Regions from separate parts of the Homo sapiens genome. Here region 1 is linked to region 2. A link means that fine-mapping ties the variant in region 2 to the expression of a gene that starts in the linked region. Tissue or cell type: whole blood. Region 2 holds a variant in brackets; the other region holds the start of a gene. All regions are shown on one strand. Distances are between the middles of the regions. Region 1 holds the start of FAM120AOS (family with sequence similarity 120 member A opposite strand). Region 2 overlaps FAM120A (family with sequence similarity 120 member A).

What was found. PIP is the estimated chance that this variant, and not a neighbour inherited with it, causes the effect.
Region 1: FAM120AOS starts here. The variant in region 2 is fine-mapped to the expression of FAM120AOS in whole blood (TOPMed, PIP above 0.99).

Annotation. Positions count from the first base shown.
Region 1 is chr9:93,448,702-93,463,769 of GRCh38, forward strand. FAM120AOS (family with sequence similarity 120 member A opposite strand) reads right to left here and starts at 4,880. Exons shown (of 3, transcript NM_198841.4): 1 at 3,446-4,880; 2 at 1,778-1,898. The coding sequence starts at 4,008. It overlaps FAM120A (family with sequence similarity 120 member A), which reads left to right and starts at 2,984. Exons shown (of 18, transcript NM_014612.5): 1 at 2,984-3,688. The coding sequence starts at 3,215. RefSeq lists enhancers at 2,464-3,013, 4,593-4,722, 4,786-5,080, 11,874-12,373 and silencers at 2,594-3,123, 3,264-3,393, 3,694-3,873.
Region 2 is chr9:93,470,743-93,485,810 of GRCh38, forward strand. FAM120A (family with sequence similarity 120 member A) reads left to right here. Exons shown (of 18, transcript NM_014612.5): 2 at 399-645; 3 at 5,514-5,596. Among named protein-coding and RNA genes, the nearest start is that of FAM120AOS, 25 kb to the left of the region's middle. RefSeq lists an enhancer at 11,783-12,283. The variant C/A (reference allele first, on the strand shown) is at 7,200.

The sequences.
Region 1 (15,068 bases), 22 kb before region 2:
CCGCCTCCTGGGTTCACGCCATTCTCCTGCCTCAGCCTCCTGAGTAGCTGGGACTATAGGCGCCTGCCACCACGCCCGGCTAATTTTTTTTTGTATTTTTTTTAGTAGAGACGGAGTTTCACCGTGTTAGCCAGGATGGTCTGGATTTCCTGACCTTGTGATCCGCCCACCTCAGCCTCCCAAAGTGCTGGGATTACAGGCGTGAGCCACTGCGCCCGGCCCAGATGTTTATTTTTACCTCAATATTTAAGCAATTTAACTTCAACCAACCCCTGAATTTGAGTTAAGGATGCAGAGTATATAAGTGTTTGTCAGCTAAACATTTTGCCCACCATCAATAGCTACTCAATAAATAAAGTTTTTTTTTTTTTTTTTTAAAGAACACAAAGCTAAATAGGGCAACTAAGAATTGAGTTTTATGTGTTATGATACAATAATGAATTTTAAACTTTCCAAAAGTACAATAACTGGTCTATGTTCTCGAGTATAAGTCTAGACAAATACAGTTTCTGGAAATAACTACAAAAGCCAACATTTATTGAGCATTTGTTGTGTGGCAGGCACACAGGTTATCTGATTTAATCCTTATAACAACCTGGGAGGTTAAGTACTATTAATATGTTGATTTTACAGATGATAAAATCCAAGGTTCAATAAGGTAAATATTTTTGCAAGGGCACAGACTTATCATAAGATGGATATTGGGGGCCTGACTCCAGAACCTTAGACCTCTACAATATAATAAGGTGAAAATAAATTTATTTCCAGAATTCCAGATACTGGCACTGGCATTTTTTTTTTTTTTTTTTTTTGAGATGGAGCCTCGCTCTGTTGCCAGTCTGGAGTGCAGTGGCGTGATCACTGCAACCTCCACCTCCCAGGTTCAAGCAATTCTCCTGCCTCAGCCTCCCGAGTAGCTGGGACTACAGGTGCGCACCACCACGCTCGGCTAATTTTTGTGTTTTTAGTAGAGATGGGGTTTTACCATGTTGGCTAGGATGGTCTCCATCTCTTGACCTCGTGATCTGCCCGCCTCGGCCTCCCAACGTGCTGGGATTACAGGCGTGAGCCACCACGCCCGGCCGCACTAATGCATTTTTAAAAATTAAAAGCAAGAGTGTTTAAAGAAAAGGTAAATACACGGAATGCAATGCTACAAATGAAAATACGAGTGATTAAAAACTACTACTCCTCACCTTGTGAACCTGCCTTGGGTTATAAAAGCAAATTTGGATATTTCTGGATTTTGCTCGTTATTTAATGGCTAACTGTATTATTTCTTTTATTTATTTATTTATTTTTGAGACGGAATCTCGCTTTTTGCCCAGGCTAGAGAGTGCAGTGGTGCCATCTCCGCTGACTGCAACCTCCGCCTCCCGGGTTCAACCAATTCTCCTGCCTCAGCCTCCCAAGTAGCTGGGATTACAGGCGCACACACCACCAGGCCCGCCTAATTTTTGCATTTTTAGTAGAGACGGGGTTTCACCATGTTGGCCAGGCTGGTCTCGAACTCCTGATCTCAAATGATTCACCCGCCTCGGCCTCCCAAAATGCTGGGATTACAGGCGTGAGCCACCGCACCTGGCCTGTATTATTTTTAGATAACATGTCATCCTGGCTTTGTGACTAATTTTATGCATAGGTGAGTGGCATAACTTGTCAGCCTGCTTTTAAATGTAACTTCCTAAAATACCAGCAGCATTTAATTTATGTACGTATGATACTGGCTTGCATTTGAGGTGGGTATCAGAAAAGAAAGCAGAAAAATCCAACTTGCCTTTTTCACCGGGAGTATGGGGGCTTCTTTGGCCAAACCGTGCGCGTGCAGGCTCCATGTGCTGGGCAGCAGCTGTCCGGCCACAGCCTGTCGGTTGCATCCTGCTCCTCTACAGAGGTTTCTCCAAAAAAAGAACAAATGGAGAGATGAAGGTAAGTAAAAGCGGCACTTTAAAACTTTTAGAGTGCTGGGTTTCTAAATTTATATTCTGAAAGACATTAATCTCTTTTTGAAAATGTTTTATGCAAGCCTAATATACATACAGTATCAACCTCATTTTAGAAGCAGTTACGACAGAGCTTTGGAACAGAATTTACGTAAACGACCTCCTTCCAGAAGATGCTACTAAAGCAACAAGATTCAAATCCCTCTCCCTCAGAAGAGCTGGGAGATCCACTGCAAAGGCGCACGTTTCAGTCTAGCCATTGCGCAGTGGTAACGCAGGCTTTCCCACGCTGCAACAGACCTGTGCTCTCAAGACAGTCTCTTCCGTGACGAGCAGGCGCTTAGGGCTACCTGTACCTTCAGACATTATGGTGTGTTTGGCCATGTCATTTGTCATAGGTGTAAAAACCACAACCGAGAGCCCGAAGCTGCTGGGATGAGCACCTGCCGCGGAACTGCATTCTCGCGCTCCTTCCTGCTCTTTCCAAGAAGCCAGGCGCGGCCGGCCAGCATCCCGCTCTCCCGGACCCCGCAGTCAGTGTGGGCAGCAGGCCCAGAGTGGTGCGAGCCGACGGCGGCGTTAGAAAGGCGGCGTCCCGACGAACAGAGTGACTCGGCCTCGGCTCCCCTTCAAAGCGCCATCTTATCGCTGCTTCCCTCAGGAGCAGGCGAGCTCTTCCCCAGGACCTGCTTCGCGGCTTCCCTTCGCCCGAGAACCACCGGGCGGAGGCGGCGGCCTCTCTGGCCCTGCCGGGAACAGGGCGCAGGGGAGGGGAGCGGCGGCCGACCGGCCTGAGGCGGGCGAACGGCCTCTGGCCTCCAGGCGCTGCCTGCTCCGGCTCAGAAGCCTCCCGGATCCCGTCCCGGCCCAACTCCGGGCCTCCGCCTCCGCCGCCGCCTCCGGGAGCCCCGAGCCGCGTCCCGCCGGCGCCGCCTCTTCCGCCTGCTAGCCGGCGGGCCTGGGCGGCGTCCGCGCCGGGCGGGTCCGCTACGTCAGCGCCGCCCGCCCGCCCCGCCCCGGCCCTCAGCCTCGGCCTCGGCCTCGGCCTCGCAGCGGCGGCAGCGGCGGCGGCGGCAGGTCCCTCCCCAGACATGGCCCTGGGAGGCGGCAGCACATGGCGGCCGCGGCGGCCATGAGCGCGCCCCCGACCCGCCCCAGTCCCCCCTAGAGGCCGCCGCCCCCGCCCGCCAGCCCGCCCGCGCGCCACGGCCCCACCACCCCCGGCCCCGCCGCCCCCCGCCCGCACCCGCGCCCGCGCCCCCGCCGCCGCCATGGGCGTGCAGGGCTTCCAGGACTACATCGAGAAGCACTGCCCGAGCGCCGTGGTGCCGGTGGAGCTGCAGAAGCTGGCCCGGGGCAGCCTGGTGGGCGGCGGGCGGCAGCGGCCCCCGCAGACCCCGCTGCGCCTGCTGGTGGACGCCGACAACTGCCTGCACCGCCTCTACGGCGGCTTCTACACCGACTGGGTCAGCGGCGGCCAGTGGAACCACATGCTTGGCTACCTGGCGGCGCTGGCCAAGGCCTGCTTCGGCGGCAACATCGAGCTCTTCGTCTTCTTCAACGGCGCGCTCGAGAAGGCCCGGCTGCACGAGTGGGTCAAGCGGCAGGGCAACGAGCGCCAGACGGCACAGCAGATCGTCAGCCATGTCCAGAACAAGGGCACCCCGCCGCCAAAGGTCTGGTTCCTGCCGCCCGTCTGCATGGCCCACTGCATCCGCCTGGCGCTCATCCGCTTCCACGTCAAGGTGAGGCCGGGGATCCGGGCGGGCCGGGGACCGGGGCCGCGCCGCACCCCTATCCCCCTTCCCAGGGCGCAGAATGTCGCCCGGCCGTGGCGGCGCTGGGGGCAGCGAGTTCCCCCAGCCCTTGCCCGGGATAGCCTGGCCGGGCCGGGCTGCAAGATGGATGGCCGCGGGTGCAGGCCGCGCGCTGCCCAAGCCCGTCTCCAGCTGTCCCTGTTCGGGGTCCGCGGCCGCGTGGGGACACTTGAGGGCTGGGAGAGAGCCCCGGACCAGAATTCGGAGGCGACAGTGTCATCATCCCCAATATCCTTAGTTTTTCCCATCCTATTTGAGGCGGGCAGGCTATCACTCACCTTCAACTTTGACAAAATACTCCCTTTTCTAATTTAGCCTGTTCTTTCCCAGCAACAGGTTCATCTTGGAAGCAGGCAGGATACAGAGTAATAGAGGGGGTTTCGCCAGAGCCCTTGGGGGCTGCAAATATCAGTGCTGCTGCCGCCGCCCTTGCCAATGTTGTTAGCCCGGTGACAGCGAGACGTGTCTAAGGGCCAGTGCCCTGGCCTCTACTTCAGAACGCAGTGCCCTGTCCGTGTTCCTCTTAGTACAGGGTGTTTAGAGAATCTTTCTATGGCTTTTTGTGTTAGATTTCAAAGACCCGTGCACTTTGACAGGATGGGATTTTGTCAGTTCTGTGACTTCACGTCCGTGTGAAAGAGGTCTTTAAGGCAGTTCGGTTTTGTAGATCCCATGCGAAAGGAGTCGCTCAAAATCAGGGGGCGAACTACGCGGGCGTGAACTCGCAGGATTTATTTTTCGGGTGCACAGTAAGTATTCAGTGACCTTCAGCGGTGCCCTGACGGGTGGGTAATCAGAGCTCTATATCACCGGCCTCCTCTGGCCCTTTGGCAGAGGGCTTCGCAGCTGGCACTGGGCCAGAGGAGAACTTCAGGACCCAGCAGTGACTGTGAAGATAAGCACATCCATGATCCTGGACTTCACGTTCTGATTGCTTGCTTTTTTCATTGGTTTTCTTGAAAACAAATTTTGGGGGCCTTTTTGTTGTCTTAGCTCTTGACACTCGGTCTTCCATCTTGTCATTTGACATTTCCTTGAAACTGCTGGAGCTGAAAGTTTGTGAAATTCTGTCTTCGCGGTTGCCCCCACTGCCCGCGAGGAGATGGTGGTAGTTAAGCCTAAAATGATAGCGGAAGTCCCACCCACGATCCGGTTGCAATTGGTGAGATGGTGTTTAAGTCGTGGGTGGAGGCGGCCGGCAGAGTCCCGATTGGCCCCTGCGCCTGGCAGACACACAGCTGCCATTCCTCAGGGAAGTTCGGGTGAGAGGAAGTGCCTGCCTTTTAATTTCTGAATCGGAGCCTGGGGCGCTCAGGGAAGTAAGGTGCTGCCATTTGTCTGAAGCGATCCATCTCCCTAATAGAGCGTAAAAGTGTTCATAGTTTAGTCTTGTTCAGAGATGGAAAAGACTACTTAAAAGACAGGATGAGCTGCACTGACTTGCCTTTGGTAACCGCACAGCTCTCTACTTAACTAGTCAAGCGACTTTCAAGGGAACACTGTGAATATTACTTAGGATTAGAATCAGTATGTATGCATATGGTCACTGTATCTTTAAAGAACTGTTGAGTTCTTTTTAATTCTACAGTTTCTTTATCTTTGCACCCCTTTGAATGCCTCGCACACCTAGTAGGTGCTCAGAATTCAGACCAATGTGTCAGTGTTAGGAAACTAGATTTAAGCTCCATTTAAGATCGTCTTTTTCACTTAGGTTTCTGGACACGGGATAATGGGATAATTTTGTCTGTATTTTGCTTTTGCTAAGCTTTTAATTATTGACCTAGGGTCATATTATAGTGCGAATTGCACAAAATGAATATTGTAATAACTCAATTACTTGGTGGTCTCTTAGCTGGCAACCTTACCTTTTTGAAAAGTGCCTAAGAGATTTAGCTACTAGAAATTTCTCAGCAACCAAGCAAGATGTCAGGAAGTTTGGGTACAGTGATGTGGGGGGTTGGCGGGTGTAGGGGGGTGCTTTTGCTTTCCTCACTGAAGAATCCTTTAAGCTCTCTCACTCATGGACTGGCCTCTTTTCATATGTAATTCTAACAAGCTTGGTTATCTATTTTCTAAACTCAGCTTGAGAAGAGGATGAAGAGGAGAGTCTGCCAGAGGCAGGAGCACCATTAATAGCAAGAAGTGACAAGAGAGATTTAAAAAGCTATAAAAAGCAAACATAATTCTGGGGCTATTTTAAGAAAAGGAAAACAACCCTATGTACTTCCTTGGTCCCTGAGGGTAGTACAATGTTTATTCTATAAGGATGATTTTGAGTCATAAAAATTAATATTCAGCATTCTCTGTTTAAGGGATTGAAACAGTGTATACCATTTAATAAAAGATACCCATAAAGTGGTTAAAACGTTTAAAACCATGATATCACTACATGCCTATTAGAATGGCTAAAAGAGAAAAAAATATGAGCAATACCAAGTGCTAGCAAGAATGCTGAGCAACTGGATCCTTACACATTGCTTGTGGGAATGCAGAATGGCACCACCACTCCAGAAAACAGTGGCACTTTCTTATAAAGTTAAACATACATTTATCATACGATCCAGCAATTCCACTCCTGGGTATTTTCCTAATGAAGACTTTTGTTTGTGCAAAAACTGGTACTCAAATGTCCATAGCAGCTTAATTCATAATAGCCCAAACGTGGAAACAAAGTATCCTTTAATAAGTGAATGGTTAAACTACAGTATAGCCATACTATGGAATACTACTTAGCAATAATAAGGAAGGAATTGCTGGTGTAGGTAACAACTTGCATGAATATTTAATTAAGGTTTTATACTGAGTGAAAGAAGCCAGGTTCAAAAGGGATGATTATAAAACTATAGTGATAGGGACCAATTCAGTGGTGCTGAGAGTAGAGGAGGGGAAGGATGTACACATAAAGGGGACAGCAGGAGAGATCTTTGTGGAGTGATGGAACTGTTCTGTATTCTGATGGTGGTGATGCTACCATACATTAAAATCAGAACTATTCATCCAAAGTAAATGTGTTAATTTTATCATATGATAATTTTTTTAAGATTAAGTAAAAACCACTGGCAAAGGAATTGACATGAACAATTCAGTATATATAATGTTGAGTAAATGAGACATTTATAAAAACTTTAAGCATCTTATTGGTGCTTTCTAGTGTTTTGTAAATTGGCAGAGGGGCATAATTTCCTGTTACCTTTGCTTAGAGAAATCTTTTTTTTTTTTGAGATGGAGTCTCACTCTGTCTCTCAGGCTGGAGTGCAGTGGCGCGATCTCGGCTCACTGCAACCTCCACCTCCTGGGTTCAAGCGATTCTCCTACCTCAGCCTCCCTAGTAGCTGGGATTATAGGCGCCTGCCATCATGCCTGGCTAATCTTTGTATTTTTAGTAGAGGCGGGGTTTCACCATCTTGGCCAGGCTGGTCTTGAGCTCCTGACCTCGTGATCCACCTGCCTCGGCCTCCCAAAGTGCTGGGATTACGGGCGTGAGCCACTGCGCCTGGCCAGGAGAAATCTTTTTTGATTTAGAGATTATTTCTTTTACAGAGTAGTAATTGTATTTTTTTGTTCAGTAGTAGTAATTGTATTTCTTTAACCATTAGAAGTTGGTCTACATGGAAAGACAGCCAGAACAATGAAAATAATAATACTTTGGCCTATGTATTGACTAGTTTTGTGTAGGTCCTAAAATAGCCTAATTTGAACTTGGCTTTAGCTAGTTACTTGGACAGTGTTTCTTCTTGTGTGCCTTGGGTCATTATAACCTTTGAAACTTCAGTGAATGACTTATGTTTATTTTAAAATCTTAGTGGCATGAAGTCACTGGAGCTTTCATAAATGTTTCTGCTATATGACTTGTGGTATCAGTGTAAGGGTTTATAATAAAGTCCTTCAGATCTTCTGAATTTGCTTCCATTGGAATTTTGTTAAATAATGCTCTTACATAAAATGGCGTTCATGCTATAAGTCAGTGGAAGAATGTGAGGTTAGACTATGGTTTAGAATTTTCATGGTTAGCATAATTACATGTTTGTATTTAGAGATGATGGTCTCCCTTCATGTATACTTGATGGGGGAAGAGAATGAACTGGTATCAGACCAGGTGCTTGCTAGATCCTTTCTCACATATTCCATCTCATTTAATCCTCAGAGTGCTTTGTTACCCCATTTTTCATGTGTAAAAACAGGATCTAGTGATTAAGTGACATCTGGGGACAAGTCATTAGTAACCTCAAGACGGAAGTGGAGTGCTAAAGTCAAAGTTCAGCTTCTTTGTGTAAGAATACTTTGTGGGTGTGCCTACCTACAATTCTCACCCCCAGGTCAATTACGATAGCTAACTGCTTCAGCTATGTTTTCTAGTTAGGATAGGAACAGTCATGTTGCTATTCAGAAGAAAAATGTCCATCAGTAGATCCTGGACACTGACAGTACATCTTATTCTTAAGGACCTTTAATTGACTGGAAGATTTTTAAGGTTCAAAACTGACCATATTATACCTCAAACTAGTCACTGTATATATTTCTCTGTTGTACTACTTTTGTCACTAGTTTAATTCACATAGCATAATGTCTTCAAGCTTCTTTCATGTTGTAGATTGTGTCAGAATTTCCTTAACTTTTAAGGCTAAGTAATACTCCACTGTGTATATGTACCACATTTTGTTTATCCATTCATCCACTGGTGGATACTTGGGTTGCTTCCACTTTTTGACTATTGGGAATAATGAATAATGCTTCTATGAGCATAGTATACAAAGAGCTGTTCGAGTTCCTGCTTTCAGTTCTTTTGGGTATATACTCAGAAGTAGGATTGCTGGGTCATATGGTAATTCTGTTTTTCTTTTTAAGGAATGGCCATATATTTTCCACAGTGGCTGTGTAGGCCATATATTTTATGTCATAAGTTATATAATATATATTATTATAATATAGTTCCATTTTTTCACATTAATGTGATTGCACTATACGTTATTCAGCAGTTTGCTTTTTTATTTGTAAGAAATCTTTCCATGTCTATACTTAGAGCTCTAAGTCTTTTCAGTCCCTAAATAGTATTCCATAATTTATCCAACCCCGACAGATGGTATACACATGATATATACACACAGTAGAGCTAAAGGTATGCACATTTTAAAAGCCACGTAGGACCATAGAGTCAACATTACCAGAACTTCAGACTTTGCAAGAAAGCCAGAAACCCAGATTTTTAAAAAAATTATTCCATTTTAAAAATGCCAAGCGAAGGAAAACTTGGTTCTAAGTTAGCTTCAGCTCTTGTGCCACCAATTTGTTATTTGAGCACTGATCTTTATCAACAATTATCATGGTCATCTAAATCTCTTCCTTTTTTTTTTTTTTACTTTAAAATTAAACCTATCAAAAACCACTCTGTCTTTTCCTGTCTGCCTCCTTGAACCTTTTTCAATGATCAAAATGCTTCCATTTCCTGGGGTTACTGCAATATGATGTTTCCTTAAATGCCACAATCCTCTTGGCCACTTCCATAGTATATTCTTCATTATATACTTCTCAATATTACATATTTTGAGGTGAGTGCTAACCCACATGTTTATTTGACATCTCACCATTTCCAAGGCACAGCCTCACTGTCCTCAAACACTTCAGCACCTGGTTTTACATTCTTATATATTATTTATACTGTGTCCCATCAACACAGACACTGACTCTTCACCTCTCTCATCTGGCATCCTGATTCTGCAACTGGAGTGAATTTCTAATTGCACTTTAGATACTCCAGAGCTTGGACCGTATAATTAGTGAGAAAAGTGACCCCACCTTTAACACTTCTGAACGCTGTGTCCCTGTCACTCCTTGCCGCTCCCACCGTCTGTCCCCTGCTTGCCTTCCGCCATTTCTCTTTTCCCATTCTGTTGGCTTCCTTTTTAGCTGTAACTAGCTTGAACTTCATGATCATTCACTTCAGAGTTACACCCTCTACCACCATAGAGTCATGCTTGGTATTCCAGCATCCCATCCTCCCAGTCCCTAGAATAATGACACACCAGGCCAATTCTGGCTCAGTAGTCTCCTACTTAACTGTTATACTCTTCCTTTTTTCCAGTACCCCCAACATTTGAATTCACCATATTTATCCAAAAGGTCGAAGAAATGCTTTGCAAACCCTTCAGTGGGTTGTGAAACCAAATTATTGGATGTTTGCCATTACTTAAAAATAACGGAGTAAAATAGAATGAAAAATAGAATGCAAGGCATATACTATAGGTAAATTCCATGTCATTACACTTTTGTATTACTGTGGGTAGCAGTAAGAATGGCCTCTGCACCTACCCCCGCGCCCCAGTGGAACTAATCTTGCACAGCTTTGGCAGGGTAGACGGCCACATCTTCAGGGAGGTCACTCTCCTGTTGGGACTTGAACAAAACCATTAAGTCCAAATTCCTTATTCAGACTTGTAGACCTTCCTGCGACCTGAACTCATTTGACCTTACTTAATGTTTCACAATCCCTCTACTGTACTTTTTAAAATGTTCCCAACCCAACTGGTCACTATTTCCCCAAGAAATATCCAGTTTCTGCTTATGTCATTCCCTCTTGTTTAACTACTGTACTGTGTCCTACTTTTGCTCATCAAAATTTTACTTACACTTCAAAGCCCATGTCAAATGCCAGCCTTCTTCATGGAATCTCTTGATATTTGAAAAAGTGGACTGGGAATACACACACAGCATGGTGTATGTTTGCAGTGGACATTCTAGTCTGTTGTATTGCACCTACCTGCATAACTGCATATTTACCTCCCCCAGCCACCCGTAGGCTCCTTGAGGCCAGGGACTGTTTTACTCCTCTTGTACCCCATTATGCTTAGCATAGGCACTCAACTCTAATCAGAATATTTGCTGCATTCCATTATATAGCCAGACAAATTAAATTATTTCAAAATCTGGATCAATGGCCATTACTTAAGTTTTGTTTTGTTTTTTTAATCTTAAATTTCTCATACTCTCTTTTCTGACTGGTTCCCAATGGTGATTGATTCTCCTTTCAGCAAATGTTTGAGCACCTGTTAATGCCCAGGCCTGGAGGAGTGAACAGAACAGGAAAGGAAGGAAACCTTCAGGGAGCCTATAGCCTCTGGGTTGAGGAGGTTCATTTAAATCCTTTTTTTCTTGTTTGGAACTTTCTTTAATACTGTAGAACAATATGTTTACTCAGTGAAGACCTGTGAGTGGCTCTCAAGTAGGGTTGACAGTTGAGACATTTGGCAGGGGACATTTGGCAGTGCCTGGAGGCATTTTTGGTTGTCACAGCTGGGGGAGGATGTTAACTGAAGGCATCTATTGGGTGGAGGCCAAGGATGCTGCCAAACATTCTACAGTGCACAGAACAGCCCCCATAGCAAAGAATAATGTGGCCTAAAATACCAGTAGTGCCAAGGTAAGGAAATCTTGGTATGAGCAAATCAAAGAATTATAAGCTTTATGCCTTTGTAAAGTCATATAAATGTTTGCGATAGAGATGTCCAAGTACACCAGGAAGAAAGTAATCAAAACTACAACTTAATTTTCTGAATCAAAATACACGCAGGTATACTTCCTCCTATGTCTAACATGTTTAGATCGACATTGTTCTTCATTTTAGTTTTCTGAAATTTATATGAATAGGAAGAAACTAATTAACACATATTACACATTCCAACCTTAATAAGCACTACACCATAGGAATAAATGTCAAATATCGCGTAACATGAAGAAGAGAGATTTTAGGATTTGAAAACTTAGACTACTTTCCAGTAGATTTATAGGCAGAATTTTCTAAATAAAACAGGCATTTAAATGAATCACAGTTCAGATAAAAATATTCTTAAATTATCTAAATGTCTCCATATAGTTCATCGTTTATTTCCTTTTCGCTTTTTTTTGAGATGAAGTCTCACTCTGTTGCCCAACCTGGAGTGCAGTGACACAATCTCAGCTGACTGCAACCTCCACCTCCCAGGTTCAAGTGATTGTCCTGCCTCAGCCTCCCAAGTAGCTGGGATTACAGGCACGCCATGCCCAGCTAATTTTTGTATTTTTAGTAGAGACAGGGTTTCACTATGTTGGCCAGGCTGGTCTCGGACTCCTGACCTCGTGATCCACCCGCCCTGGCCTCCCAAAGTGCTGGGATTACAGGCATTAGCCACTATGCCTGGCCCTATTTTTGCTTATTTTTATGTTTTCTCTAGAAGTAAATCTGATGAAGACCTTGCCTGTTATCCAGCTCTTAGAGCGATGCTTGGTGTGTAGTACATGCTCAGAAAATATTTGATAAATGGATATGAATCACCAGTTACAGGCAAGGAAGTGTGATGGCAGAAAGATGGTAGGAAGCAGAAGTTTTAAAGTCCCCCTAGAGTTAATTCCAAAATCACTGGTGTCAGCTTGGCCACCTGGTGCAGAGCTTTTATCTTTGAGTAAACCTTTTATGCTTCTTAACTTAGGAGATGTGTTGAGGGCATAAAATGGGTGACTGCTTCAGGAAATGGGCTGCATTTAGCCACCTTTCCTCTTGTTACACCTGGCTTTATCACACATTGTTTCTAGGCATCTTAGGGGACAGTGTAAAAGAGTTGAACTTGACCCACTGCAGTATTTGTAGAGGTGATGGTCAATCTGCATTATGGAGTTTAGGATCTGTGATTTAGAAACGGTACTTTTATGCGCCAGTCATTTGGCATTTCTCAGTTGTCTCTGGAATCAATTAACTTTCTTGAAAGGATGAATTTACCATGTTGGTGTTTTACTGGTTAGTGCAGGAAAGTATACTAGAGGGTTTATTGCTGGAGGGTTGACTTCACAGGTCTGAAGTACATCATTCATCCTCTGAGGTAGAGCACATTTATGAATAGTAGTAACAAGCCAGCCCAGACTGTTGGAGGGGGTCACTAGACTCCATGGATGAGGTGTTTTAATTTCCTGGACCTATGAAGAGTTTGCAAGTGTTACTATCTTGAAATAAATAGTATCAACCTGTGGTTCTTTTTCCTAAATTATGAAAATTGAAATTTTATGTTTTAGATTTTGGAATGGTATTTTAATAAGAATGATATTACTAGGATTTAGCTGAGTCATTAGATTACTAGAGTAGGCTAAATAGATTCTGAATACAAATAATGTGTGTGTTTCTTCCTTTTATCATTGTATTTTTTTATTTTTAAAGTTTGTAAAGTTTAATTTGCATTTCTTTTATGACATCACTCCTTTATTATTATTAATATTTTTAGAGGGAAAAATCAAGCAGTTTTATAATTCGAACATCCCAAATCTGAAATGCTCCAAAATTCAAAACTTTTTGAGCACCAGCATGATGCACAAAGGAAATGCTCACTGGAGCATTTTGGATTTTTGATTTTTGAATTTAGAATGTTCAACTGGTAAGCATAATAACAAATATTCCAAAACTTGAAAAAGCCTGAAATCCAAAACACTTCTTGTCTTAAGTGTTTCAGTAAAGGACACCTAACCTGTATTATTGAATAACCATTGAACCAGACTGTGATCACATCACAAGCAGTGTGTGCTAAAGAGATTGCGAAAGCCAAAAAGAAGTGTCACCCTTTGATACAGCCTGGCAGATACAAACTATTACATACATCCTAATTGTCGTTAATCAAAGGAAAAGGAAAACTCTGCCTTTTTACAAGTAGGAAGTTAATTTTGGAGCCAAAGCACCTAGGCCTTCTGAGAAGACAGGGAGATACCCTTCTTTTTATTATTATTGTTTCTTAAAATTGTGGTAAAATACACCTAACATAAAATTTACCAATTTAACCATTTTTAAATGTACAGTTCAGTGGCATTAAGTATATATATTTTTTTGAGATGGAGTCTCGCTCTGTCACCAAGGCTGTAGCGCAGTAGCGTGATCTCAGCCCACTGCAACCTCTGCCTCCCGGGTGCAAGCAGTTCTGCCTCAGCCTCCTGAGTAGCTGGGATTACAGGCGTGCGCCTGCCACCACACCCAGCTAATTTTTGTATTTTTAGTAGAGACAGGGTTTCACCATCTTGGCCAGGCTGGTCTTGAACTCCTGACCTCAAGTGACCCACCACCCTTGGCCTCCCAAAGTACTGAGATTATAGGTGTGAGCCACCACGCCTGTCCCCGGTGGCATTAAGTATATTCACATTGTTGTATAACCATCACCACCATCCATTCCCAGAATTTTTTCCTCATCCCAAACTGGAACTGTGTACCCACTAAACTGTAATTCCCCATTTCTTCCATGCCCCAGCTCCTGGTAACCACCATTCTCCTCTCTGTCTCTGAAGTTGTCTACCCTATGAGCCTCATATAATGAGATCGTATAGTATATGTAATTTTGTGTCTGGTTTATTGCATTTAACACAATGTCTTCAAGGTTCATACATGTTGTAACGTGTCAGAATTTCCTCCTTAAGGCTCAATAACATTCTGTTGTATTGGATAGACCACATTTTGTTTATCCATTCATCAGTGGGTGGACACTTGGGTTTCATCCTTTTTGTCATTGTAAATGGTGCTGCTGTGAACATGAATGTACCGACATCTCTTCGGACCCATTTTTTCAACCTGGAAGTGTAATTGCTGTATCTTAGGGTAGTTCTGCGTTCAGTTTTTTGAGGAATCACCATACGATTTCCCAAGAGGCCACGCTGTTTTACATTCCCACCAGCAATGCACAAGGAATCTGTTTTTCTCCATATATTCTTGTTGACATTTGTTATTTTCTTTTTTTTAAAAAAATAGTAGCCATCCTAATGGGTGTGAGGTATTCAGTGTCTCATTGTGGTTTTGATTTATATTTCTGTAATAATGAGTGAAGTTGAGCATCTTTTCATGTCCCACTCCCTTATTTTAAGAAATGTTTTTCCTTGTTTTTAAGATCACTGTACCCAATTCTCATTTATTCTAAATGAGATATATAAGATAAGCTTATTCAGCTATGATTTCAGCTTACCTGAAGAGAGAGATTTCTTTTTAGAGGCATTGCTGCTATGTGTCATAACATTTAAATTGCCCTTTAAACAGCAACAAAAATCTGCCACCAAATTGGAGTTGACTTTTTTTAATGTTCTTATTCTTCAGTTGGACTAGAGTAGGGAACAGAAGCTTCAGTGTTAGTTTTTCCCATTTCATACCTATTGACTGCCCATTGGGAAGAGGCTGAAGACTGCCTTTTTGGTAGTTGTTTTTTAAAACAAAATAATTTAGGTGGACCTATACGCTCTTATGTCAGGTTGTTTTATATCTTCTAAATCAGCTAGCTGGCTGGAGGATGTGTCACATTGTTCCCTGAACTGGTGTAAAATT
Region 2 (15,068 bases):
AGTGGGTGGCTTCTTTCTGTCTCCTTTCTCACAGAACTCTTTATTTTCTTGTGTCTTTCTCCCCCTCTCTTTCTTGAAAATACTGTCATGGGGTCAGCTGGCTTTGTGTATTTTCAAGCAAGGTGATCTTTGAGCTTGACAAGAATTGAAAATTGATTTACAGTCTAGATGGGATCATAAGTTACTGACAGGAGATGATTTAAATGCGATTTCCCACAGAAATTTCTTAGTGGAGCAATGTGTTGCAAACTTTATTATGGCATTTTTTTGACTGTTTGGCTTTCACGGATAGTTTTCATAAATGTGATTTTTCAGCTTCTGTGCAAACATTTCTGCTTATTGAGCTTGTTGCTACAGTGTTACCCTACATCTGATGAAGTTTTTTTCTCGTTTGCCAGGTTGCACAGAGCATTGAGGATCACCATCAGGAAGTGATTGGTTTCTGCAGAGAGAATGGTTTCCATGGCTTGGTTGCGTATGACTCTGATTATGCACTGTGCAACATCCCCTACTATTTCAGTGCCCATGCCCTAAAACTGAGCCGGAACGGGAAAAGTCTCACCACAAGCCAATATCTGATGCATGAAGTTGCCAAGCAACTGGACCTGAATCCAAATCGTTTTCCTATTTTTGCTGCTCTCTTAGGTAGGTGGAGCAGTGTGAAAATATTTTATAAGGGAGTGACCATATGATAAGCACATTGATCTTTTAAGTGTTTCTGTGCTTGAATGTTTTGGATATGTATCACACATTGAAAAGAACCAAGGCGTGGGCTCTTCCTTAGCATTCCTTGCTTCGTATTATTTTTTGGCATAGCTAATGTGCTACTTTTGTTCTTAAGTGTTTGTTGAGGTATTGTTCTATCCAGGAATTGTTCAGATTAATTTTGTGAAAAAACTCATTTAAGGTTTTGGAAAACTAACATTCTAAATCACAGATGTCAACACATGGTCACTATGTAAATTAGACATTTAAACCTTTGACATAAATTATGTTTATAGTAGAAGAAAATATGCTATGGGGTTAGAATGGTTATGTTTTCACCTCATTTTCGGGATACTCACTACTTTAAAAGAGAAACAAAAATAAGCTATCGTAGCTTGTTTCCAACACCTACATTTTAAGTAAATGTATACATGTCTTTAAAAAATTTCCTTGGAGGAATTCCTTATGCTGAATACCCAGAAAGGATGAAATCTTGTTTTAACTATGACATTAGATTTTAATTTTCTTTAATTAAAAATAATTCCCCCACGCCTGTAATCCCAGCACTTTGGGAGGCCAAGGTGGGCAGCTCACCTGAGGTCAGGAGTTTGAGACCAGCCTGGCCAACATGGTGAAACCCTGTATTTACTAAAAATACAAAAATTAGCCGGGCATGGTGGTGGGCGCCTATAATCCTAGCTACTTGGGAGGCTGAGGCACAAGAATGGCTTGAACCAGGGAGGTGGAGGTTGCAGTGATCCAAGATCGTGCCACTGCACTCCAGCCTGGGAGACAGAGTGAGACTTTGTCTCCAAAAAAAAAAAAATTCCCAAGAAGTAATATATTTGTCTGTCACTTTATATTTGCATTGTGTGTTTTCTTTCTTTGCTCTTTTGTCAGCTACCCTTTCTTATGCTTTCATTGTGCTTGTCTCACCCTACTTTAATATCCAGCTCTAGTTTACTTAGTTTATAAGAATTGTGTCCAAATATAAGTAAACATGTTTTGGAGGGAGGCACTCCTGTGATTAGAATCCATGAATCTGATGGGATTTGGGGCTGTTTTGGACACACAAGGCCAGTTTGGGAAGCTGTGTGGTCTCTAGTGCTCAGTTACTGTGCTCCCTTGCAGTATATATTCTATAGAGGCTAGCAGTCCAATCCAGTCCTGTTCAAGAGGGGATTATATTGTGGATTATTTTTAGAAATGCCTAGTTATCAGAAAGATTTTTATAAACATTCCAAAACAGTTTTACACAACTAGAAATTGTAAGGAGTCACAATTTATTTTTATTTTTTTGGAGGGACTGGTTCTTTATTTCAAAGAGACACTTTTCAATATTCAGTATCAAAACGATTGCGCTATTGATTTCTATTTCTCCCAATCGGTCTCAAAGGAGAGTACATTTTAAGTCAATAAGTTGTAGGATGTATACCAACAGACCTCCTAGAAACCTTACCAGAAAATGGGGACTGGGCAGGGAAAGATTAACTTTAAAAGATCAGCAAACTGCCAGCCCATGGGCTGCAGAGGCTATGCTTTTCAAGTTTTCATCGTTAAGATATCTTTGGACAATTTTTTTTTTTTTTAAATGGAGTCTTGCTTTGTTGCCCAGGCTGGAGTACAGTAGTGTGATCTTGGGTCACTGCAACCTCCACCTGCATGGTTCAAGCAGTTCTCATGCCTCAGCCTCCTGAAAGCTGGGATTACAGGCGCCCACCACCACGCCCGGTTAATTTTTATATTTTTAGTAGAGACAGGGTTTCACCATGTTGGCCAGGCTGGTCTTGAACTCCTGAGCTCAAGCAATCCACCCACCTCTGTCTTTGCTGGGATTACAGGTGTGAGCTACCGCGCCCAGCCTTTTTTTGTTGTTGAAACAGGTTTTTACTCTGTTGCCTAGAGTGGAGTGCAGTGGTGCAATCTCGGCTCACTGCAACCTCCACCTCCCAGGCTCAAGTGATCCTCCCATCTCAACTTCCCAAGTAGTTGGGACTACAGGTGCATGCCACCACATCCGGCTAAAGTTTTTTGTGTGTTTTTGGTTGAGACAGGGTTTCATCATGTTGGCCAGGCCGGTCTCCAACTCCTGAGCTCAGGGCGATCCACCTGCCTGAGCCTCCCAAAGTGCTGGGATTACAGGCATGAGCCATTGCGCCTGGCCACATAATTTTTTATATGTTATTTTGTGAAAGCATTTCATGTTTTACTATATGAGTCAGTCAACAAAATTGTGATTTCACAACTTGTGTTTGTTTGGATCTAATCTCAAATACAGTGCTTAGTAAGGGAACTCTTGTGCCTTTGGGGATTTGGGGATTAAAACGAATCTTTTAAATATATTTTCAAATATTAAAATATAAAAGGATATTTCCTCTGATGTTAAAAGTGAGTATGGGGGTGGCACATTATATGGAAAGTTCCATGTTTGCTTAAATGCTATGTAAAATAACTTGGCATATTAATTGACTTTGAATGTGAAAATCATATGCTCTTAGAATATGGATGCCTTAGCTCATTTGAAAAATGGAAGAATACTTGTTTATCTTGTTTAAGAAACATTGAATATGGTATTTGGAAGATGATGCCAACTGATACTTTTCTAGCTTGTTAGTTTGTGAAGTTTTGAAATAAATGAAAAAATCAATTGCAATATGTTGTCAATTTAATTTAGGGCTTGCAATCTCTTCAAAAAGTTTAGTGAAGTTATAGGTAAGCTCCTAAGTTTTTGTTGTTGTTGTTGTTGTTGTTGTTTTTTGAGATGGAGTCTCTCTCTGTTGCCTAGGCTGGAGTGCAGTGGTGCGATCTTGGCTCACTGCAACCTCTGTCTCCCAGGTTCAAGCGATTCTCATGCCTCAGCCTCCCGAGTAGCTGGGATTACAGGTGTGTGCCACCGCACCTGGCTAATTTTCACCACGTTGGCCAGGCTGGAAAAGTTTCACTGTGCTCAAATGAGAAAGCTTATTTTTCTTTTCCCTTCTGTAATGGAAAGTATAGCTATATAAAGTATTTTGTTTTAGGAATGTTGGAATATTCATTTAAGTATTTCACCCCCCAATTTTTCACAGGGACTGTTACTAATGTTGGAGTTGCCTTAATATTATTTCGAATTGAAGCTTCCAAAATTTCGGACACTTCGTTCTTTTTTTGTTTGTTTGTTTTTTGAGACAGAGTCTTGCTCTGTCGCCCAGGCTGGAGTGCAGTGGCATGATCTCGCCTCACTGCAAGCTCCGCCTCCCAGGTTCACACCATTCTCCCACCTCAGCCTCCCGAGTAGCTGGGACTACAGGCAACCGCCACCACTCCCTGCTAATTTTTTGTATTTTTAGTAGAGATGGGGTTTCACCGTGTTAGCCAGGATGGTCTCGATCTCCTGACCTCATGATCCGCCCACCTTGGCTTCCCAAAGTGCTGGGATTATAGGTGTGAGCCACCGTGCCCGGCCAGACACTTCATTCTTCACCGTGAAATTCTATGCAATCCATTAACGGGAAAACAATATCAAGCCAGCAAACCTGAGCAGTTACGGTTCAGATTTGCTCATTTGGACATCACGGGAGTTCAGTACCTCTGGCTTGTGTGTTTGTGTGTTTGGAATACAGGTGGAGTGTCCCTTATCTGAAATGCTTAGGACCAGAAGTATTTTAGAGTATTTGCATATGCCTAATGAAGTATCTTAAAGATGGGACCCAAGTCAGCATGAAAGTCATTTATGTTTCATATATACCTTATACACATAGTTTAAAGGTAATTTTGTAAAACATTTTAAATAATTTTGTGCAGGAAACAACATTTTGACCGCCTTTTGACTGTGACCCATCTTATGAGCACAGGTGTGGAATTTTCCACTTGCATCATGTTGATGTTGAAAAAGTTTCAGATTTTACATCAGATTTTACAGACTTTACATCATTTTGGACTACGGATGCTCAACCTATATTATAACGTAGCAATATTCCAAATGGTCTTAGTTTGTGTTGCATTCTGTTAGTAGCAAATTAATGAATTTGCTATCATAATGTGGAGGTGATTAAGTAATGTTATAAAAATCATGGTTATTTAGGAAATTACTGCTTTGAGATTTCAATGAGATAGCTAACCTACTAAAGATCAGGTATACCAGGCATACGAACATTATTATGAAAGTAGAGTATTACCCCCAAATATAGTTTCTCAATTGAATACAGTTTTGTTTGTAGACTGTGACAGCACTGGTGATAGGATGAGCAGCTTAATGGCCTCATGAGTATTACTGTAGGATGGGCCTTTTCACATATGTTTGTGGGTGGTGATGGAAATTATGGGAGAAGGGTGTTGATTCATGTTACAATCAGCAGTCATTGTCATTTAATCTTGCTAAGAAAGGTTTTATAATTGTGCAGATTTCACATTTGGTGTTTTTATGTAATTTTGAACCGTAGCTATTTCATGAACAGATGAAAGCTTGAACCATAGTCATTTCATGAACAAATGAAAACTTGAATCTAATTGGTATTTGATATCCTGACATTGTCAGACTGACCTTTTGCAAACTGGTGTTTATTTTTAATACTGTGCTGTGAAGTTGTTTCAGTTTTATGCAGTTCTTAGGTTGAATGCTGTTGGGACTGCACTAGAAATTCCCGTCATTCTTGAAGCAGCTGCAAAGATTCTGCCTGCTGTATGTCGCTTTATGTTAAGAGATGAAGATTTGTTCTCAGTTTCTGTTTGAAAGTTTTCTACTATAGGTGACAATATGCAGCACTTTTGAAAGTTTCCCTATGTTACTTAAGATGATTGCTTTTATGTTATCCATGTTTATATTCCAGGAAATCACATTCTGCCTGATGAAGATCTGGCTTCCTTTCACTGGAGTTTACTTGGTCCAGAACATCCACTAGCCTCACTAAAGGTACAAATTTCACTTTATTTTTCTAGCATTTGTAATAATCAACTGTGAGTTTGCTATTACTTTAATAACATGTTAGGCCCTTTATTGGTGATGCTACAAAGTTAGCAATACCATGTTTTCCCATAATTTCAGGATCTGCACTGCCTTAAAAAGCAAGCAACAATGCTACCATCCCTTGTTCTCAACACCTATATGTTAGGTAAATGTATAAATGTCCTTGAAAATTTCCCTTAAGGAATTCTTTGTGCTGTGTACCTAGATAGAAGGAAATCTTTGAGCTGATGTTTTATATATTAATTTTCTTACTTAAAAATTTTAATTTTGTCTTTAGGTAGTATAGTTACTTGTCACTTAGAGCAACATCTTTGCATAGTTGATAAATTTCATAACTAATTTTCTACAATTATAAAATAGTTTATAAAGCTTTTTGGATGATGAGGGAGACTCAAATGGAAGTGATCCATTTGTACTATTTTATTAAAACTTAATATTCTTTTTCTCCCTTTTGATTCCCTTCCTGTTTGTGATAGTAATAAACATCAGAGATGAGGCACTTAATTCTGATTTTCTGCAGTGGAAGTGTCTGTGTTTGATGTGAGCATAGGAGTAATGAGTGAGATATGCACGAGGCACTGGAAAACTTCAGCTTGGACTTGTTAGTGACTCCTGTGATTGTAATGATCATTTGTCAGTTCAAGTGCCTTTCTTGACTTGGGGAATTAGGAAGATGGGGACCTAGACTTTGTATCTGCTTCCCACCCTGGGACTGCTTCCTTACAGTAAAGAGTGGCGGTTAAATTGGGTGTTTTCCGAAGGGCTGTAAAATTTTGAATGTTGTCGTAATTACCCTCCCTCCATAAACAATTTTAATTGGTGGCTAGTTTCAAATGGGAGTTTTTCTTCCTACATTTTAATTTACCTTTAACTCTGGTGATACCCAAAAGCTGAAGTAGAATTCCTTTCCTCCTTTCATTTTGTTCCCTGCTGTTTCATCTCTGGCATGCTTTTTCTTTTTCATCTCTGGCATGCTATAAAATGTTCTCCTTTTCACCCTAATGGGGTTTGGTATGGACTGTTTTCAACTTCTTGTTCAAAAATTAGTTTTTCTTCTCTTGTTAGAAATTACATTTCTGGCCATAGAATCCCTCCTGTATGTTTTCATGAATGAAGTGATGTGATCTGTCATTCGGACTCTAAGCTTCTGGTGATGCCATGATTGAAATGTGGATTGGGGAAATGCAGCGTGTAATCAGCTGGACTTAAGAGCACTGCACCTGTGCTCAGTAGCTCTGTTAAGCATTATGCTTTTGTAAGTGAGACACAAATGAAAGCTTGTTTCCTACAAGATTTATTTTGTTTTGAAGAGCAGGAGTGAGATACTCCCAAGGTTTCTGGCTATATGTGTATGTCTAAGTTAAACTAGCCCTGCTTCATATGTCACAGGGTTAGAAGTGAAGAGCTGTTTGAAGAATTATTGGAAAACCAGCTCAATCTATTGCCAAGTGAATAACATCATTATATGTGTGTTTTTCCTAAATTTTGTTGAGAAAATCTTTAAGTATTGAAATGTGGAAAGAATAGAGAAATGTGTATCCGTATATCC[C/A]CCATCTTGGTTCAACAATTATAAACATTTTGCCATAAAGTATATGTCTGTGTTTTGTTTTGTTTAACAAAAACTATTTGGAAGTAAGTTGCAGATATGACACTTTACCCATGAAAATGTCAGCTTGCTCCACCACTTCAGCTTGCTCCATCACTTCCTAAAAATAAGGACATTTTGATACTTTATCATATTACTCCTATGACATCAACTAAATTAATAATTCTTTAATATCTTTTTTTTTGAGACAGGGTCTTGCTCTGTCACCTGTGCTGGAGTGCAGTGTCTAATATCATTTAATATTAAGCCCATATTCAAATTTTTTCAGAGTCATTTATAGGTTTTTTTTTTTTTGATCGAGATCCAGTCAAGCTTTATGCATGCATTTTGATATTAGCTGAGTACTTTTATGGCATATTGGAGAAGAAATCCTAAATTATTTTTCAGATGACTTGATACGTTGTAGGATTTTAAAGTCACACATGAAATGCAAGTGCACCTGGTTTTGAGATAAGTTCAGAAATTGCATTTGTTAGCCACTTTAATGTTTTTATTTGAGACAGAGTCTTGCTCTGTCACCCAGGATGGAGTACAGGGGTGAGATCTCGGCTCACTGCAACCTCTGCCTCCAGGGTTCAAGTGATTCTCCTGCCTCAGCCTTCCAAGTAGCTGGGATTACAGGCGCCTGCCACCACGCCAGCTAATTTTTGTGTTTTTAGTAGAGGCAGGGTTTCACCATGTTGTCCATATTCGTCTCGAACACCTGACCTCAGGTGATCCACCCACCTTGGCCTCCCAAAGTGCTGGGATTATAGGTGTGAGCCACAGCACCCGGCTCACTTTAATGTTTTGACCCTTCATTCACATTTTTGTATGCAGCACCATTTCAGTGATTTTAATATACATAGGGGAAATTGGATGTGGTTTTACTCCCCATGAGCATGACTGATGGATGTGCTACAGAATTGTATGTATCCCACCTGCTATTTTAGTCTCTTTGTTTTTCCCCAGTTGTAAAACCAATTGCATCTTTTGAAAATTTGGATAGTTGTTACATATCTTCCATAATATTCTGAGTTTTATTTTCTGAAATATTCTTTGTGTTTTTGTATTATGTTGAAATGATGAGAGGTTTAAGATTAGGGTATTGCATTTTTTTTTTTTTTTTTTTTTTTTTTGAGACGGAGTCTCGCTCTGTCGCCCAGGCTGGAGTGCAGTGGCGGGATCTCGGCTCACTGCAAGCTCCGCCTCCCGGTTTCATGCCATTCTCCTGCCTCAGCCTCCCAAGTAGCTGGGACTACAGGCGCCCGCCACTACGCCCGGCTAATTTTTTGTATTTTTAGTAGAGACGGGGTTTCACCGTTTTAGCTGGGATGGTCTCGATCTCCTGACCTCGTGATCCGCCCGCCTCGGCCTCCCAAAGTAGGGTATTGCATTTTAAGAGGTGCTTTGAATTGATTAGATATTAACTTCATAGAACACCAGCCCTCTGTGAACAATAATAAATTTGGCTTTGGCAAAATAGTACAAATATAATATGATAAAAGGGATGGACCAAGGAGGCTTAAGCTTGAGGATGCAAAGTCACGTGTCCTTAACAGCTATTTTTCCAGTATACTCTGTTAGAAAGGGAACCAATAAAAATCATGAGAAAATTTCATCTTTTTACCATCTGATGAAAATCACAAAATACCATGGATAGGAAGTCATCAGTAGTCGATAATTTATGTGATTCCAAATCTTCAGTATGTTGGCAGCACTATGAATTTTTGTTTTCTTTATAAGTAGCATCCTTAGACTCATCTTTTAAACATGTGTCTTTACCAATTTCACTACATGCATTCATTCATTCACTGTAAATTTTTAACTCTCTGACTGTCATCGAACCAGCTACATCAGTTAGAAATTGTGAAGTCCTCCCTGACTGTCCACAGCCCTGGTTGTGTTGAAAGAATAGCACGTCTGCTTTGGGGCTCTGCGGGCTCAGAAGCACAAGGGAGAACAACTGTTAAATCATTGGGTAATATCTGCAGAGAGGAAAGCTAGGATGGGAGCCAAATTCTGTTTTGTCCTGCCTTATTAGTTAGTAGTAGATCGTGCTTATTACTAGATTATGAATGCAATGTTAGACATACTCAGAACCTAAAATTGGTAGAAGACAGTAGGAAATAGGATGTAAGGTGACTTCTTCATACCTCAATGGTAACCTTAAGAGCTGCTAGTAAGGTGGGCATTGAATTTCTTAGGTTTAGATGCAAAGACTACTTCATTTATGTTCAGAACACTTGGGCCATTTCATGTAACATGTAAAATTGTAGGATGGGGTTAGGGGTCAGATAGCTTCTAAGATGTGGTCAATTCTATAATGAGAGAAAGAAAACAAGAGTTATGTGTTACTCCCTATTCCTCGGGAGACCTGCTGTTGGGATTCCTTGCTGCAGTCCCGGAGATGCCTGGAGGCTGGGCTGGAGTGCGACCTCTGTCTCTACCCAGGCCCAGGTCCTGCAGAACAGGGAGCCTGGCAGCAGATGATACAGAGCAGGCTGGGCCAGGATGGGTAAAACCCCAGGGCTGCACAGACACCCAAGCCTGAGGCTGCGTTTATCTTACTTTGCTCTAAGTAAGTTACTCTGTTTGATTGGAAACATAAGAGAATCTTTTATGTACCTGGAAGAGTTGAGATACACTCCTGGAATGCCTCCCAAACAATGGGGAAGGCATTCCAGGAGTGCATCTCATTTCCTCGCTCATTTAAACTTTTTCCAATGGCAATATTTCTTAAAAGGGTCATATCTTTAATAAGGAAAATACATTGAATATCCTTTCAATGTGTTTTTGGACTCAGTGTTATAATTAGGAAGATTTGTGATTGTATTTACAGTAATGAAAAGTGGGCTGGATGCATATTGGTCTTTCGAAGAGGCTCCCACTGTTTGTGTTGCTCTGGGCCGCTGTGCTCCTTTCATGGTTTTAGTGTGGCTGGCAGTGTTGCATGAGAGAAATGGAAGGCGTCAGGCAGCCTGGTACCCAGAGAGCTGAGCCTGCAGAGCATGGGCTCCAGTCCCAAGCCCAGCCTCTGTTTCCCTTCAGGTGGTGCCCCCATGCCTGCCTCCTCCTGTGCCCTGGGAGTGGCTGGCCATTCGGTCTGCCTGGACATAAGGTTTAGTGAGCCTGTGGGTGCCCTGCATAGCTGGTGTGGCCTGTACTCATCAGAGGCGGCCTGCGGCTGTGGCAGTCCACCCTGGGCAGGGCCCCCTGGCTGTAGACATGTGCTAAGTGAGCAGTTTTTCAAAATGTGACTTTTGGGGTTTTAAAAATTGTATGATTTTGTGTCCTAACTGGTTACGGGAATTTTTTATTTTGGGTGGGCATTTTGTTGTTTTAATTTTTAAAAATGTTTTATAGATGTTTGCTGGCTTTATTTTTTTAAAAAAACATGTTTCTTGTTGCCTCTGGTTTTCTTGAATCTTGGGTTTTTAAACACTTTACAGAAGGCTTTTTGTCACTTGGGTGTTCTACATCCTATTGACCTCGTATTTGGGTATAATAACATTTAAGTTGGACCTGTTTAGTTTCAGGTCATTGTATTCATTTTAGTGGTTTTTGTGTTCCTTAACTTCATATTCAATTTCATATATTTTGAGTTTCCATCCATGCCAGTTGTTTGTGATGGCCAAGTATTCCCAACCACTGAGCCCTTCGAGCTCCTTTTGCCTCCTTGTCTGGGACACCCCAGCTTGCAGATTTTATATGGACTGATCCTTTCCTGAGACTTCACTACCAGCAGTTCTACTTTCTAGTTAGGTTTAGTCGGTTTTACTCTGTTTACACTGCAGTTCCCAGTCTTTTTGAAAGACCCCTTTTCTGCATGGTGAGCCTCCCCTAGAAGTACTTGTCCTCCCCCAGCCCTTTCTGACCCCATCAGCTGGTTATCCTAGGGCCAGGCTGGGTCCTGGGCCAGGCTGCACCCTCATTCATGGAACGCCATCTTCTCTGTATGATCCTCTCTTGGAGCTTCCCCTAAAGTACTCTTCTTGCTTTCTTCTACATCATCTTAGGAGCTCCCTCTAATTCCTAGCCCTGGCATTTCTTCCTTTTGATTTAAATGTCTTTGTGTATTTATCACCTTACCACTCTGATTCACTTATTTTGGTAATCTTTTACCAGCATTATCTTTCCCTGAGGCACCCGTATACCGGGGGCAATCTATCAGGCTGTATCAAGAAAACTTTTAGATTCACCTCCATTTTTTTTTTTTTTTTTTTGGGAGACGGAGTTTTGCTCCCTTGCCCAGGTTGGAGTGCAGTGGTGCGATCTCAGCTCACTGCAGCCTCTGCCTCCCGAGTTCAAGCAATTCTCCTGCCTCAGCCTACCTAGTAGCTGGGACTACAGGTACACGCTGTTGCCACATCCAGCTAATTTTTTGTATTTTAGTAGAGACGGGATTTCACCTTGTTGCCCAGGCTGGTGTCAAACCCCTGAGCTCACGCAATCCGCCTGCCTCAGCCTGCCAAAGTGCTAAGATTATAGGCGTGAGCCACTGTGCCTGGCCATTCACCTCGAATTTTTCCCAGGGGTATCTTTAACTATATTTTTTATATCTTATTGTCTTCAACCAGAAGTCATTGAGTGGTACTTTTAAAACATGTCCTTTAGGGCCAGCAGTTGGGTCTGGCTCTGAGAGAGTAGTGAGGAGGGTAGCATCAGGATCTCCAGGAGCAACGATGGTAGGGCCGTCAGTCTGGCCTTCTTATCGCAGGGACTGTGTCACCTCCAGGGTTGGAACACACAGCAGACCCCACAGTGGGCCAGTCTAGTAGACTGGCCCTTTGAGACAAAGAGGAACTGAACAGTCCTCTCTCTTGGGCTTCCCAGATGGACACCTGGGTGGCTGTTGCAGCTGCTGCCCAGCCTGTGGTCCTAGTGACCGCTGTGCATGGTGCCTGTCTCTGGACTAGGGCTAGAGGTCCCAGTAGGTCTCATGCAGTGCCTGGAGCCAGCTTTTGTCCGAGAAGAGCTGTAGCATTTCAGGCACTTTGAGGCTTCATTGTGTGTGGCATTTACCACGTAACCTTGCTGGAGCTAGGTCAGTGATCAGATGACTTGATCTTTCTGAAATCTTTTTTTAAAAAATTAAGTTGGGTATAAACTGTAAATAAATAGAAAGATGAACTTCGTTTATTTCTGACTTTCACCTATATTGTCATAGCAGGAGGGGGTAGTTCTGAATTCTGTGAACCCTCCAAAGAAGGAATTTCTCCTTACATGTTAGTGTTAATTGAAGTTCACTTCATATATTTTTTTCTTAATAAGTCGTTATATTATAATAGTTTAGTAAGAGCTAAGAAAAACTTCCTAAAATCTAAGTACTTATTTAGCTTTAGAAAATATAATATTAGGGGCCTGAAAGGTAAGTAAATTTAAAACATTCTTCTGTTTGTTTGTTTTTTTTTTAAACATAGTCTATTGGGGAAAAAAAGAGAGACAGGCAAGATGACGTAGTTTGACTGAACCCTCTGATTTTGTTAATCTTTGTAGTCTTCATATTTCTGTTGCATTTTTACTGTTTTAGATAGAAGCCTATGTTATCTTTTTAAAAATTCATTTTTATTATAAAAATAATAAGAAACAATTTAATCAGTACAGAAATATGTCATGTGAAAATGAAAGGTACTTATAATCCCACTTCTCGGAGATAACCACTTTAGACAGATTGATATTTGATCCTTCGAAGTGTAATAAAAATGTCTGTCTTGCTAGTGGTGCTCATCATTGTCACCATCATCATGCATGTGACATTAGCTAAATGTTCTTAATGGTTAATGTATACAGATTCATTGTACTGGATTTTAAGCTTTTAAGTCTTGAAAACCTGCATTTAATAAGAAATTTGTTATTTGCTCCTTTTAATTTATATGTGGAGTTGTTAAATGAAATAATTTAAAATACAAACTGAACTCAAAAGGATTTCTGCTTGTTCATATCTTCCAGTCTGTGTCCTCTATTGCCTGTTTGTTTTAAAATAAAACTGGAAAGCTTAGAATTCTGAGGAATCTGCTGGAATCTCTTGGGGCTCAAGAATAGTTTTTCTGTGTCTCTCTTTTTTTTTTTTTAAGAGACAGGGTCTTGCTCTGTTGCTCAGGCTGGATGGAGTGCAGTGGCTGTTCACAGGTGTGATCATGTGCAGTACAGACGCAAACTCCTGGGCTCAAGTGATTCTCCTTCTCCTGCCTCAGCCTCCCAAGTAGCTGGGACTACAGGTGTGCGCCACCACACCCAGCTTCTGTCTTTTATTCACAGATTAGGAGTAGGTCTCCAGTCATATTGCTGGGAAGAAAGGGATACAAGTTGTGGGAGGTTTATGCTCCTTCCTTGTTACAGGATTGCTTTTAGTTTGGCTCCTCCCATGGAGTGAGTGGGACTGCCAAGCAGGATTCTTCCTGATTGACCTGGAATGGACGACCCTGCCAGCAGGAGCAGGAACAGAGGCCAGCAAGGGAAAGACAAGACACAGTCTGAGTGGGATCTGAAAGATACCGTGTTGGTAGTGCTGGCACTTACGGTATCTCTGGGAGAGAACTAGAGTAGAGCAAGCAAAGAGAAGCTCAGCAATAGTGTCTTTGCTAACTGTGCTTTATTATTATTATTATTTTAAGACAGAGTCTTGCTCTGTCACCCAGGCTGGAGTGCAGTGGCATGATCTTGGCTTACTGCAACCTCTGCTTCTTGGGTTCAAGTGATTCTCCTGCCTCAGCCTCCCAAGTAGCTGGGACTACAGGCGTGTGCCACCACGCCTGGCTGATCTTTGTATTTTTAGTGGAGATGGGGTTTCGCCATGTTGGCCAGGCTGGTCTCGAGCTCCTGATCTCAGGTGATCCACCCGCCTCGGCCTCCCCAAAGTGCTGGGATTACAGGCATGAGCCACTGCGCCCGGCCTGCTGACTGTGCTTAGACCTAGAATGCTCTAGTTTTATTTTAAATAAGCAGCATAATGTCAGTCTTCAAAACGAGTGTGTAAACATTTTCTAGCTTACTTCCTACTCTGTGAGTTCAAAACGTCAGCCCTGTTTCTAACCAGGCTTTCTCCATCACTTTCTGCTTAGCATATTCACCTTCCTCTGAATGCCATGGTGACACGTGTGAATTAGTGCCATGTCCTAGTCCTAGTCCTATGTCTTCCCCCTCCACTCATGGCAGATCAGACACTGTTGTTGCACGCTAACTGTACACTGAGGGCTCCTCAACCTAGAGAATATCACCCTTAAGACATTTTGCCTGGGAACTGCCACCACCCCCTGCCCAGCCAAATCTGGCACCAGATTTGGTGCCAGGCAAGTTCCTTCCAAGACATTCTTGGTCAGAAACAGAGGGCTTGTGCTGGGTATGGTGGCTCATGCTTGTAATCCTAACACTTTGGGATGCCAAGGTGGGAAGATCACTTGAGTTCAGGAGTTCGAGACCAGCCTGGGTAACATAGTGAGACCCTATCTCTATAAAAAAATAAAAAAACTAGCTGGGTGTGGTGGCATACCCCTGTAGTCCCAACTACTTGACAGACTGAAGTGGAAGGATTGCTTGAGCCTGGGATATCAAGGCTGCAGTGAGCCTTGATCTGTGCCACTGTGCTCCAGCTTGTGCGACAGAGTAAGACCCTATCTCCACAAAAAATAAAAAGAAGCAGAGGGCTTGCCAGCAGCAGTCCCAGCTATGTCCAGCATCTTGGTTTCTTATATCTCTTGCTCACAGGCCTTGTCCAGGGTCAACTTCTCTTCCTGGCCCTCTTGCTGTGTCTTTGAGACTCTAGCCCCTGTCACCCCAAAAAGAAGCCATGTCCGCTTCGGCAGTCACTCTCCACTTCTTTCCCTCTACAAC